2 separate regions of the Homo sapiens genome follow, and region 1 is linked to region 2. The links come from fine-mapping of genetic effects on gene expression. A gene starts in region 2. The other region holds a variant in brackets. All regions are shown on one strand. Distances are between the middles of the regions.

Region 1 (5,522 bases), 21 kb after region 2:
ATGATACATATTCACTGACCTGCACCCTCCACCCCCACACTCATACCTCTTCTGGCTTTGTCATGGCACCCAGAAACCTTCTTTTAGCATCTTGGATGTGGGGCTGTGGTGGAGACATTCACAGCATGGCTGTCTCCTGCATGCCTGATCCCTGACCTCTTAGTCTCCTATTCCAAGATTCCAGCTGGGTTTAGTTGTTAAGAGCCAGTTAAGCAGTTTTTGGAAGCTCCTGCATGAGCCTCACCTGAGTGTGAGACTTTGGGCATCAGATACAGGACTGCCCTTTGGGCTTGTGGCCTAGAGTGTGGACTTTATTGCTCCAGAGGAGAGGCAGAGATCCCTCATTAGGAAAATCATGTACCTCCTTATGGACCCCTAGTCTGATGTAGAGTATGTTACTTTTCCTTTACACCAGATGGCTTGCTGGGGATGTTCCTGAAACGCCTCTCGTCTCAGCTTATCCTGCTGCAAGCATGGACTTCCCACCTCTGGAAAATGTTTTATGATGCTCGGAAGCCCCGGAGTCAGATTAAGAATGAGATCAACATTGACACCCTGGCCAGAGATGAATTCAACCTCCAGAAGATGATGGTGATGGTAACAGCCTCAGGCAAGGTGAGTGGGGTTTAAGCTCCAGTTACTGAACCTTTTCAAATTCTGAGGGTGAGGAACAAAAAGCCTTCAGTGAGGGATAACACTGGTTCTAGTTTTCAAGGACAGACTCAGTTCTTTGGTTTCTCTTTCTAGTAGTGAGCCAAGTATTTGTTTATCTTGCAGCTTTTTGGCATTGAGAGCAGCTCTGGCACCATCCTGTGGAAACAGTATCTACCCAATGTCAAGCCAGACTCCTCCTTTAAACTGATGGTCCAGAGAACTACTGCTCATTTCCCCCATCCCCCACAGTGCACCCTGCTGGTGAAGGACAAGGTGAGGCATCCAGCTCTGACTTGAGCCAGACTCAGTGTGGCTTTTTTGCTATTTTGTAACTTAAATTGCTCCTAGGCCCTTGGAATTGTGTGAGTTAATGAGGAACATTCAGGGGTTAGAACTCTGTTTCTTCTAGTTTCATGCATGGGTGGAGGAACCATCCAGCACTGATGTGGAATTGTTTAGAAAGTGGGTGTGACTTCACCAGCTATGTAGGGAGCCAGCTCTCCTCTTTTCTAAACATTGGCTGTTGGTTGCTGAGTGGCTATTTTCTCTTCTCTCTTTGAGGAAGAGCAGGACACAAAGATATTTTTGTGTCTTCCCAGAATTAGAATGGATTTTTGTGTATTCATTCTAGCATAGAAGGCGGGCTTGGTAGACACTTTCCTGGAACGGCTGCCTGGTGCGATCTCGGCTCACTGCAGCCTCCACCTCCCAGGTTCAAGCAATTCTTGTGCCTCAGCCTCCCGAGTAGCTGGGATTACAGGCACACGCCATCATGCCCGGCTGATTTTTGTATGTTTAGTAGAGACAGGGTCTCACCATGTTGGCCAGGCTGGTCTCAAACTCCTGACCTTAGATGATCCACCTGCCTCGGCCTCCCAAAGTACTGGGATTACAGGTGTGAGCCACCACGCCCGGCCAGGTTGCTGAATTGTTACTTGACTTTTTTATTAGTTCTTGTTTAGAACTGGCAGAGCAGCCAGGCGCGGTGGCTCACGCTTATAATCTCAGCACTTTGGGAGGCCAAGGAGGGCGGATTGCTTGAGTCCAGGAGTTCGAGACCAGCCTGGGCAACATGGTGAAACCCCTCTCTACAAAAAATAAAAACAGAATTAGCCACGTGTGGTGGTTTGTGCCTGTAGTCCCAGCTACTTGGGAGGTTGAGGTGGGAGGATCACTTGAACCTGGGAGGCAGAGGTTGCAGTGAGCCTTGATCATGCCACTGTACTTCCAGCTTGGGTGATAGAGAGAGACCCTGTCTCAAACGAAAAAGAACTGGCAGAGACAGTTTGACTTTTTTCTTTGTGACGTTAGCCTAGGGGACTATTCACCTACAGCCAAGAACTTATTTTCCACAAAGAGGGCAAAGACTAGAGAACCCCCACAGTTGTTGAGCTGGAGTCCCAGCTCTTCAGGTCTATCCCTAGGATTTGCAGTCTTTTCTTGTTGGTGGAGCCTGACAGTTTGCTCATTTTAGGAGTCGGGAATGAGTTCTCTGTATGTCTTCAATCCCATTTTTGGGAAGTGGAGTCAGGTAGCTCCCCCAGTGCTGAAGCGCCCCATCTTGCAGTCCTTGCTTCTCCCAGTCATGGATCAAGACTACGCCAAGGTGTTGCTGTTGATAGATGATGAATACAAGGTACTGTCTTCAGAGGGGATGGAGAACATGCTAGCGGAGTC[C/G]GGTTTGGGGCCAGGTGGTCAAACACAGCGGCCCGGAGATGGAGTGCTCTCTGCACCCAGCACGTGTTTGGGCTCTAAGGCCATCCCGAAGAGAAATGATGGCTGTGTCTGCATTTGTGAAAACTCAGGTTCTTAACAGAACTGAATGTAAACCCTAAACTGAGTTCAAATCAACTGATTTGCAGTTTTATTCTTAAGGCTCTCTTTGATGGGGAAATTTCCTAACTCTTTCCTTGGGCTCTCTGGGTTTTTCAAGGTCACAGCTTTTCCAGCCACTCGGAATGTCTTGCGACAGCTACATGAGCTTGCCCCTTCCATCTTCTTCTATTTGGTGGATGCAGAGCAGGGACGGCTGTGTGGATATCGGCTTCGAAAGGTAGGAAGGCATGTCCTGGCACAACCCTTTGTGGATGAGATGCAGGTGTTTCCTGGCCATTTGGCTAAGAAGTGAATTATGCTACTCATTCTACTGTAAACTTAGATTAGCATAATCCTGATGTCTGATACAAAGTCAATCATTTGTTCATATTTGTTGGGCAGCTACTACATGGCAGATACGGTTCTAGGTGCTGTGGATGGAGTGGTGCACAGTAGAACAAATCTCTGCCCTTGTGGAGCTTTCATTCCACATTCTTTTTCTTTTTTTTTTTGAGATGGAGTCTTGCACTGTCGCCCGGGCTGGAGTGCAGTGGTGCGATCTCGGCTCACTGCAACCTCTGCCTCCTTGGTTCAAGCGATTCTCCTGCCTCAGACACCCAAGTAGCTGGGATTACAGGCGTGCGCCACCGCGCCCGGCTAATTTTTTGTATTTTTAGTAGAGACAGGGCTTTGCTGTGTTGGCCAGGATGGTCTCAAACTCCTGACCTTGTGATCCACCTGCCTCAGCCTCCCAAAGTGCTGGGATTACAGGCGTGAGCCACCGCGCCTGGCCCCATTATTTTTCTATAGCAGAGAGATGGGACTTTTTTTCCATTCTTGGGAGGGTAGAAGGTAGGAATGTGGGTTGAGTAATAAGTTGTACTTTTATATGAAGATGATGTTGACCAACTCGTGATGGAATGTGTGCTTTGAATTTTATTTCTAGAAAGGGGGTCAGTTTGCTTTAATCCTCACATACTTGAGACCAACTCTTGTAAACAGTAATACACGCTGGCTGTGAAGTCCAGCTCTGAAGTTCACGAGGGGCTGGCATGGCCTTGTTAGCAGGACTGTTTGGAGAAGTACTCTGTGGTGTGTACTCACAAACAGCTCTCCCATCCTGTCCTGTAAGGCCTTTTGAGAGGCATAGAGTTTAACCAATTTGCTAGATTGGAAGTCTAGGTTTGTCACTTACTAACTTTGTGACCTTGGGCTCTGGTCTTCTGTTTTCTTATCTGTAAAATAAGGTGATAAGTACCTGTCTCATAAGGTTGTTGTGAGAATTCAACACATAAATCACATAAAACTGCCTGGCACATGGTAAATGCCATCTGAGTTGGAGGTGCTGTTGTTTTGAAAATGCAGCGCCCTTTTGTGACATTTGTAACAGCTAACCTTAGCATAAACAGCACTGGAAATGGTCTGCCCAGAAGACACATCCTTTACCCTTGTGAATGAAAACATAAATAAATAAAATCATCCTTCTGAGTTAATAAAAAGAGGACCTTGAAAGAGACAGTTTTGTAGATTCAGGGGAGTGAACTGGAGTGTGGGTGTCATGAATCTGGAGTCCTGAGGACATCATCTGAGTGAACAATGACCAAGGAAGACAAAGGAGGCAGAGCTGTCTGTGGGAAGTGAGCCAGCTGTGTGCGCGAGTCCGGGACCACAAGGGAGTGTGCTGCCTTTGCCCTCACTTGGTGACCTTCCTCTCTGGGGATGTTTTAGTGAGTTCTTATGTTTTCAAAGAAGGTTGTGGCAATGAAGGCTTATTATTAATAATTTTCACTATTTTAAAAATTTAGGTAATACATTGAGTATATTCTCATTGTAAAAGAGTCCATTGATACAGAGAGGTGAACAAGCAAAATGTGAACAGACCCTTGTAGCCCCATTCCCAGCGGTCTTCCCCTCCCCAGGTGGAAAGCCTGTCAGCAGTTTGCTGTGCCTCTTTCTACTGTCCTTGTGTATTTATGATTCCCTATCAACAGCTGTGTGGACACACGTGTGTGGCTCATACTTTATTTATTTTTTTTTAGAGACAGAGTCTCGCTCTGTCACCCAGGCTGGAGTGCAGGGGCGCAGTCTCAGCTCACTGCAACCTCTGCCTCCTGGTTTCAAGCGATTCTCCTGCCTCAGCTTCCCAAGACTACATGTGCACGCCACCATGCCTGGCTAATTTTTGTATTTTCAGTAGAGACGGGGTTTCACCATGTTGACCAGGCTGGTCTCAAACTCCTGACCTCAAGTGATCCTCCCGCCTCGGGCTCCGAAAGTGCTGGGATTACAGGTGTGAGCCACCACGCCCGGCCCATTTTATTTTTTTTTCTCATTCACATGCAATTGACCTATATTTATTCTTATGAAATTTGCTTTTTTTCATTTAATGGGTTTTCTACCTCATTGTTTTGTCAACTTCAGTTTTTTATTACAGAAAAATATTGACAAAAGTGCAAAATCATGAGGTATGGCTCAGTGAACCCTCACCAAGGGAATACACTTGTGTACCTGGTGACCACTTCAGGAAACAGAATAGCACCAGCTCCTAGAAGGCCCTTGTGCCCTTTGCCAGTAACTACCTCCTGTCTCCACCCCCAAGGGCTCCGCATAATTCCATAGGATGGATGTATAATAATGTATTTAACCATGAGTGTTTATTGGTTGGTTTCCTATGACCATAAACAATCATACACGAAATGTTTTGAGCTCCCTGTTAGCTTAGACATTCACTGCTGGCCCCAGTATACAGGGATCTTGGAGTTTAGTAATAAATGGTAAATTTTCCTTGCATATTTCCTACTCAGATAAACAACGGGATACTATTGAGCGTTCGCCTCCTTTCCTACTGGCTTTATTATCTTTTTTTTTTTTTTTTTGAGCCGGAGTTTCGCTCTTGTTGCCCAGGCTGGAGTGCAATGGTGCAGTCTCGGCTCACTGCAACCTCCACCTCCTGGGTTCAAGTGATTCTCTTGCCTCAGCCTCCTGAGTACCTGGGATTAAAAGCATGCGCCACCACACCCGGCTAATTTTGCATTTTTAGTAGAGATGTGGTT
Region 2 (5,000 bases):
CACAGAATCAAATCGTTCCAGAAACACTTAACAGAACTCCAACTGCAAAGCCCCGGGCGCCTTCACAAAGGGACCCAGGCCTCTCTTCTTTAACCTGCCCGCACTCAGCCCCTCTTAACTAGGTACCACACAGACAAAGACAATGACATCAGTCAATGGTAAGTGGAGCAGAGGAGGGCAAACGAAATATAGCGGGCCACTTCCCATCATTTCCACTGTTATACCTTTGGCTCAAGCCAGCATCACCCTGTCTTGGATTAATGCTGGTCTCACTGCTTCCATTCCTGCCCTCTGCCCTGTCTTCCCCAACTATTCTCACCAAGGCAACCAGAGTGACCCTTCATAAGTAAAGGTAAATCACATGGGTCCTCTGCTACTCACTTCACCTGGGCAGGAAAGCCAATGCCTTGCCAAGGCCGAGGAAGTCCTGCCCTCTCTGCCTAACTCCCTCCCCAAACTCTATTTGGCTCCTTCTGCTCCAGCCTCACTGGCCTCTTGTCCCAAACACGTCATATCTGCTCCCATTTCAGAGCCTTTTCACTTCAGGTTCCCTCTACTTGGAACAGCATTCTCCCAGATAATTCCACAGCTGCTCAATTCCACAGGTTGCTCGCTTCCTTTCTTTATTTTCTGCTCATTTGTCACTTCATCAGTGAGACCTTTCCCGACCACACTATACAAAATATCAACATCTCTTCACCCCATTTTCAATCTGATTTTTAGCATTTTGCGGAATATGTTTCTCCTAAAACGTTAGGCTCGATAAGAAATAGGCTTTCCTTGTGACTGCTGTATCCTCTAACGCCTAGAAAGTGCCAGACCCCTAAATATTTTTGAATATTCCAGGGAGCCGGGTTAAGAGAGAGGCCACCACAGCAAAGGTGGTCAAAAACGGTCTCTTAAGAGGTGCGCAAGTCGGGTGTAGTGGCTCACGCCTGTAATCCCAGCACTCAGGGAGGGTGGTTGGAGCCCAGGTGTTCGAGACCAGCTTGGCAACACACTGAGTCTTCTCTATAAAAAATAAACAAAAAAAACCTAGCTGGGTGTGGTGGCGTGCGCCTGTAGTCTCAGCTACTCGGGAGGTTGAGGTGGGAGGATCGCTTAAGCCAAGGAGGTCAAGGCTGCAGTGACTTATTTTATTTATTTATTTTTGAGACGGAGTCTCGCTCTGTCGTGCCCAGGCTGCAGTACAGTGGAGCGATCTCGGCTCATTGCAACCTCCGCCTCCCGGATTCAAGCGATTCTCCCGCCTCAGTCTCCCAAGTAGCTGGGATTACAGGCACCTGCCACCATGCCCATCTAATTTTTAGTATTTTTAGTAGAAAAGGGGTTTCACCATATTGGCCAGGCTGGTCGGGAACTCCCGACCTCAGATGATTCGCCCGCCTCGGCCTCCCAGAGTGCTGGGATTACAGGCGTGAGCCACCGCATCCGGCCTGCAGTGTTACGATCGCGCCACTGCACTCCAGCCTGGGCAACAGAGCGAGACCCTGTCTCAGAGGGATCCTATTAACTGACAACTAAGAAGGCGCAAACCATACGAAGATGTAAGCATGCCAGGCAGAAACAACCGCAGACACACAACGCCAGACACGGGAACAAACCTGTGCTGAAAGAAGGGAAAGGCAGCCAGGGTGGCGGGAGCGCAGGAAGATGAGAAAGGGCCGAAGTTGGGAAAAGTGGGCCGAAACGGCAGCAGGCATAGCCGGGGGCGGTGTTCAGGAGCTGCCTCCCGACCCAGTTGGCCTTGCAAGAGCACCTGAAACTAGGCAAAACGAGTCTCCGCTCCCCAGACCCGACCGGGCGTCAGCCACCTCTGGCGGTTTTACAGCCCCGAAGCCCCCATTCCAGCTCGCAGCGAGGCAGCGGAACACCTCGAGGATGTCCTGGCGTTCCAATCTGCGCCCCCGCCGCCCCGAAGCCCTCACCGCAGGCTGGGTAGCCAGCCCACGGAGCTCCCCCCAGGGTCCCGACTCCCCCTTCGCCCACCTTTCTTGTCGCGCTTGGATTTGGGCATCGCGCTGAATCCACGTGCGGCGGAAGACGGTGCACCCCGTTAGGACCCCGGCGGCGCGGGGGACTCTGGGACGGCCCTCGGGGGCTGCCCCTCGCGTGTGCCTGACCCAATGTGCACTGCAGCCTGCCTCTCCCTGCCAAGCCGCCGCCTGCGCTTTCTCCCGCGCCTGTAGGGCAACTTCCCGTGTGCCGAGGCAGTCCCTGAATCCCGAGCGTCCCGTCCGACCGAGGGCCTCGCGCGCTATCCCAGCTCTGTGGTCCCGCGGAGGCGGAGCCCGCGGCGCGGTGCATGCCGGGACGGCGGTGGGTGGTGCATGCGCTCGCATCATGGCGGCTGAGTGGGCTTCTCGTTTCTGGCTTTGGGCTACGCTGCTGATTCCTGCGGCCGCGGTCTACGAAGACCAAGTGGGCAAGTTTGATTGGTGCGTACGTGTGGAACATATTCGAGAGATAAGTGGCTGTTTCCCCAGTACCTGTCTCCTACCTGCTAAAGGTTGTCACTTAACAGGATTGGCCGCATAATTTGCAGGACCCAGTACAAAATGAAAACGTGGGGCCCCTTGTTAAAAAATTATTAAGGATTTAAAGTCGTTGGAAGCAGAGCCTTAAACCAAGTGTTAGGGGTCATTCTAAGCTGATCCTTGCGTGTAAGCCGGCCCTGCCATCCAGGAATGCTTGGGGTGCCGGTCAGAGATCACTGATCCCGTCCTCCCTCGTCAGGTTCGATTTTTTTGACTGTGAGGTTTCTGGTCTACCAGGTGTCAGAGGTCGCCAAGCTGTCAGTGAACTTTAATTCCTACTCGAATTGGTGTCTTGTAGGCAAGTGAACAGGAGCTTTCGTCTTAAAAGTCCTAAACTGAGTCCTTTTCCCCTCTCATCAACCTAGTCTGGCCCTGGGCTCACAGCAGGATTGCCCAAAACACTAAGCAGCTAGAATATGCCATTCACTCATTCATTCATTCACCCACCCACGTCTTCCTTAAGGCCCTGGAGTAGCTTGCTTTTGTTTGAATTTTACTAGTTAAGACTTGTGTGATCTTGGGGAAAGTGACTTAACCACTCTGTGCCTTGGTTTCTTTGTCTGTAGAATGGGTTTACTAACAGTCCGTTATCTCTTACAGTACTTGTGAGAATGAATGAGACAATCCCATTAAATTACTTAGCACAATGCCTGGCTCATTGAATGCAGTCATTAAGCGTTATCTGTTATTATTGCTATTTACACTTTATTCTTCAGGGCCCAGGTCAGATTTCTCCTCCTCTGAAGTATTTTCTGTCTTGGAAAAGTTGATTCGCATATATGTTGAGTACCTGTTATGCCAGACAGTGTGACAAATAAAACATGTTACATTTTTAATGATGTGCACAACTGTTCACAATGTCATATGTGTATGTTACACATATATATCGGGTGATATGTGTATCTAATTTTGCAGAATACTTGATATATGCAATTTTCTTAATTTTATTTTCATGAATGAATGAATGAATGAATGGCATTTCCTAACTGCTTAGTGTCTTGGGCAGCTCTGCTCTGAGCCCAGGGCCAGGTTAGGCTGATGAGGGGGGAAAAGGACTCTGTTTAAGACTTTTTTTTTTTTTTTTTTTTTTTTTTTTTGAGACAGTTTTGCTCTTGTTGCCCAGGCTGGAGTGTAATGGCGCGATCTCATGGCTCACCACAACCTCCGCCTCTGGGGTTCAAGCGATTCTCCTGCCTCAGCCTCCCGAGTAGCTGGGATTACAGGCATGCGCCACCACACCCAGCTAATTTTTGTATTTTTGGTAGAGACAGGGTTTCTCCATGTTGGTCAGGCTGGTCTCAAACTCCCGATCTCAGGTAATCCACCCGCCTAGGCCTCCCAAAGTGTTGGAATTACAGGTGGGAGCCACTGCGCCCAGCCAAGACTTTTTAAAATTTTTTGAGACAGGGACTCATTCTGTAGCCCAGGCTGGAGTACAGTACTATCATGGCTCACTGCAGCTTTGACCTTGCAGGTTCAAGTGACCCTCCCAGCTCAGCCTCCTGAGTAGCTGGGACTACTGGTGCACACCTCTCCAGTTTCTTTGTATTTTTTGTAGAGACGGGGTTTTGCCATGTTGCCCAGGCTGGTCTTGAACACCTGGGCTCAAGCAATCTGGCTGCCTCGGCCTCCCAAAGTGCTGGGATTACAGGTGTGAGCCACTGCACCTGGCCTACAGTTTTCAGATTGAAAAATAAATGAAGACATACAGGTATGCATCACTTAATGATGGGAATACATCCTGAGAAATGCCCTCTTGTGCAAACGTTGTAGCATGTACTTATGTAAATCTAGATGGTTTAGCCTACTACACACCTAGGCTATATGGTACAGCCTATTCTTCCTAGGCTACAAACCTGTACGGCATGTTACTTTACTGAAAACTGTAGGCAATTGTAACACAATGGTAAATATTTGTGTATCTAAACATAGAAAATGTATGGTAAAAATAGGATATGAAAGATAAAAAATGGTACACTGGTATAGGGCACTTAACATGAATGTATCTTGCAGAACTAGGAGTTGTTCTGGGGTTAGTCAGTAAGTGGTTGGTGAGTAAATGTAAAGGCTTAGGACATTACTGTACACTACTGTGGACTTTATAAATACTGTGCATTTAGACTATACTAAATTTATAAAATTTCTTCAATAATAAGTTAACCTTAGCTTAATGTAACTTTTTTACTTTACAAACATTTTATTTTTTTAATTTTTGACTTTTGTAATAATACTTAGTATAAAACACAGACTTTACAGCTGTACAAAAATATATTTTTAAAATTTATTTTTGACATGGGATCTTGCTATGTTCCCCAGGCAGATATTGAACTCCTGGACTCAAGCAAGCCTCCTGCCTCAGCCTCCCTAGCAACTGGGATTACAGGCATATGCTACCATGCCTGACTTAATAATATTTTTCTTATATCTTTATTCTATAAGCTTTTTCCTACAATACTAAAATTT

Direction of the effects. Positions count from the first base shown, and alleles are read on the strand shown. Sizes are in standard deviations (SD) of each study's normalised expression.
In carriers of allele G in region 1, the expression in liver of the gene that starts at base 2,048 in region 2 tends to be lower than with C alone (moderate effect, 0.51 SD a copy in GTEx).

Evidence for each region. PIP is the estimated chance that this variant, and not a neighbour inherited with it, causes the effect.
Region 1: its variant is fine-mapped to the expression of MRTO4 in liver (GTEx, PIP 0.94).

The regions. Positions count from the first base shown.
Region 1 is chr1:19,228,029-19,233,550 of GRCh38, reverse strand. EMC1 (ER membrane protein complex subunit 1) reads left to right here. Exons shown (of 23, transcript NM_015047.3): 14 at 416-615; 15 at 778-927; 16 at 2,129-2,290; 17 at 2,588-2,707. All of the region lies in intron 1 of EMC1-AS1 (EMC1 antisense RNA 1), which reads right to left. Among named protein-coding and RNA genes, the nearest start is that of EMC1-AS1, 20 kb to the right of the region's middle. The variant C/G (reference allele first, on the strand shown) is at 2,332.
Region 2 is chr1:19,248,853-19,253,852 of GRCh38, reverse strand. It overlaps MRTO4 (MRT4 homolog, ribosome maturation factor), which reads right to left and starts at 2,048. Exons shown (of 8, transcript NM_016183.4): 1 at 1,990-2,048. The coding sequence starts at 2,017. It overlaps EMC1 (ER membrane protein complex subunit 1), which reads left to right and starts at 2,329. Exons shown (of 23, transcript NM_015047.3): 1 at 2,329-2,438. The coding sequence starts at 2,344. RefSeq lists enhancers at 1-94, 1,911-2,416.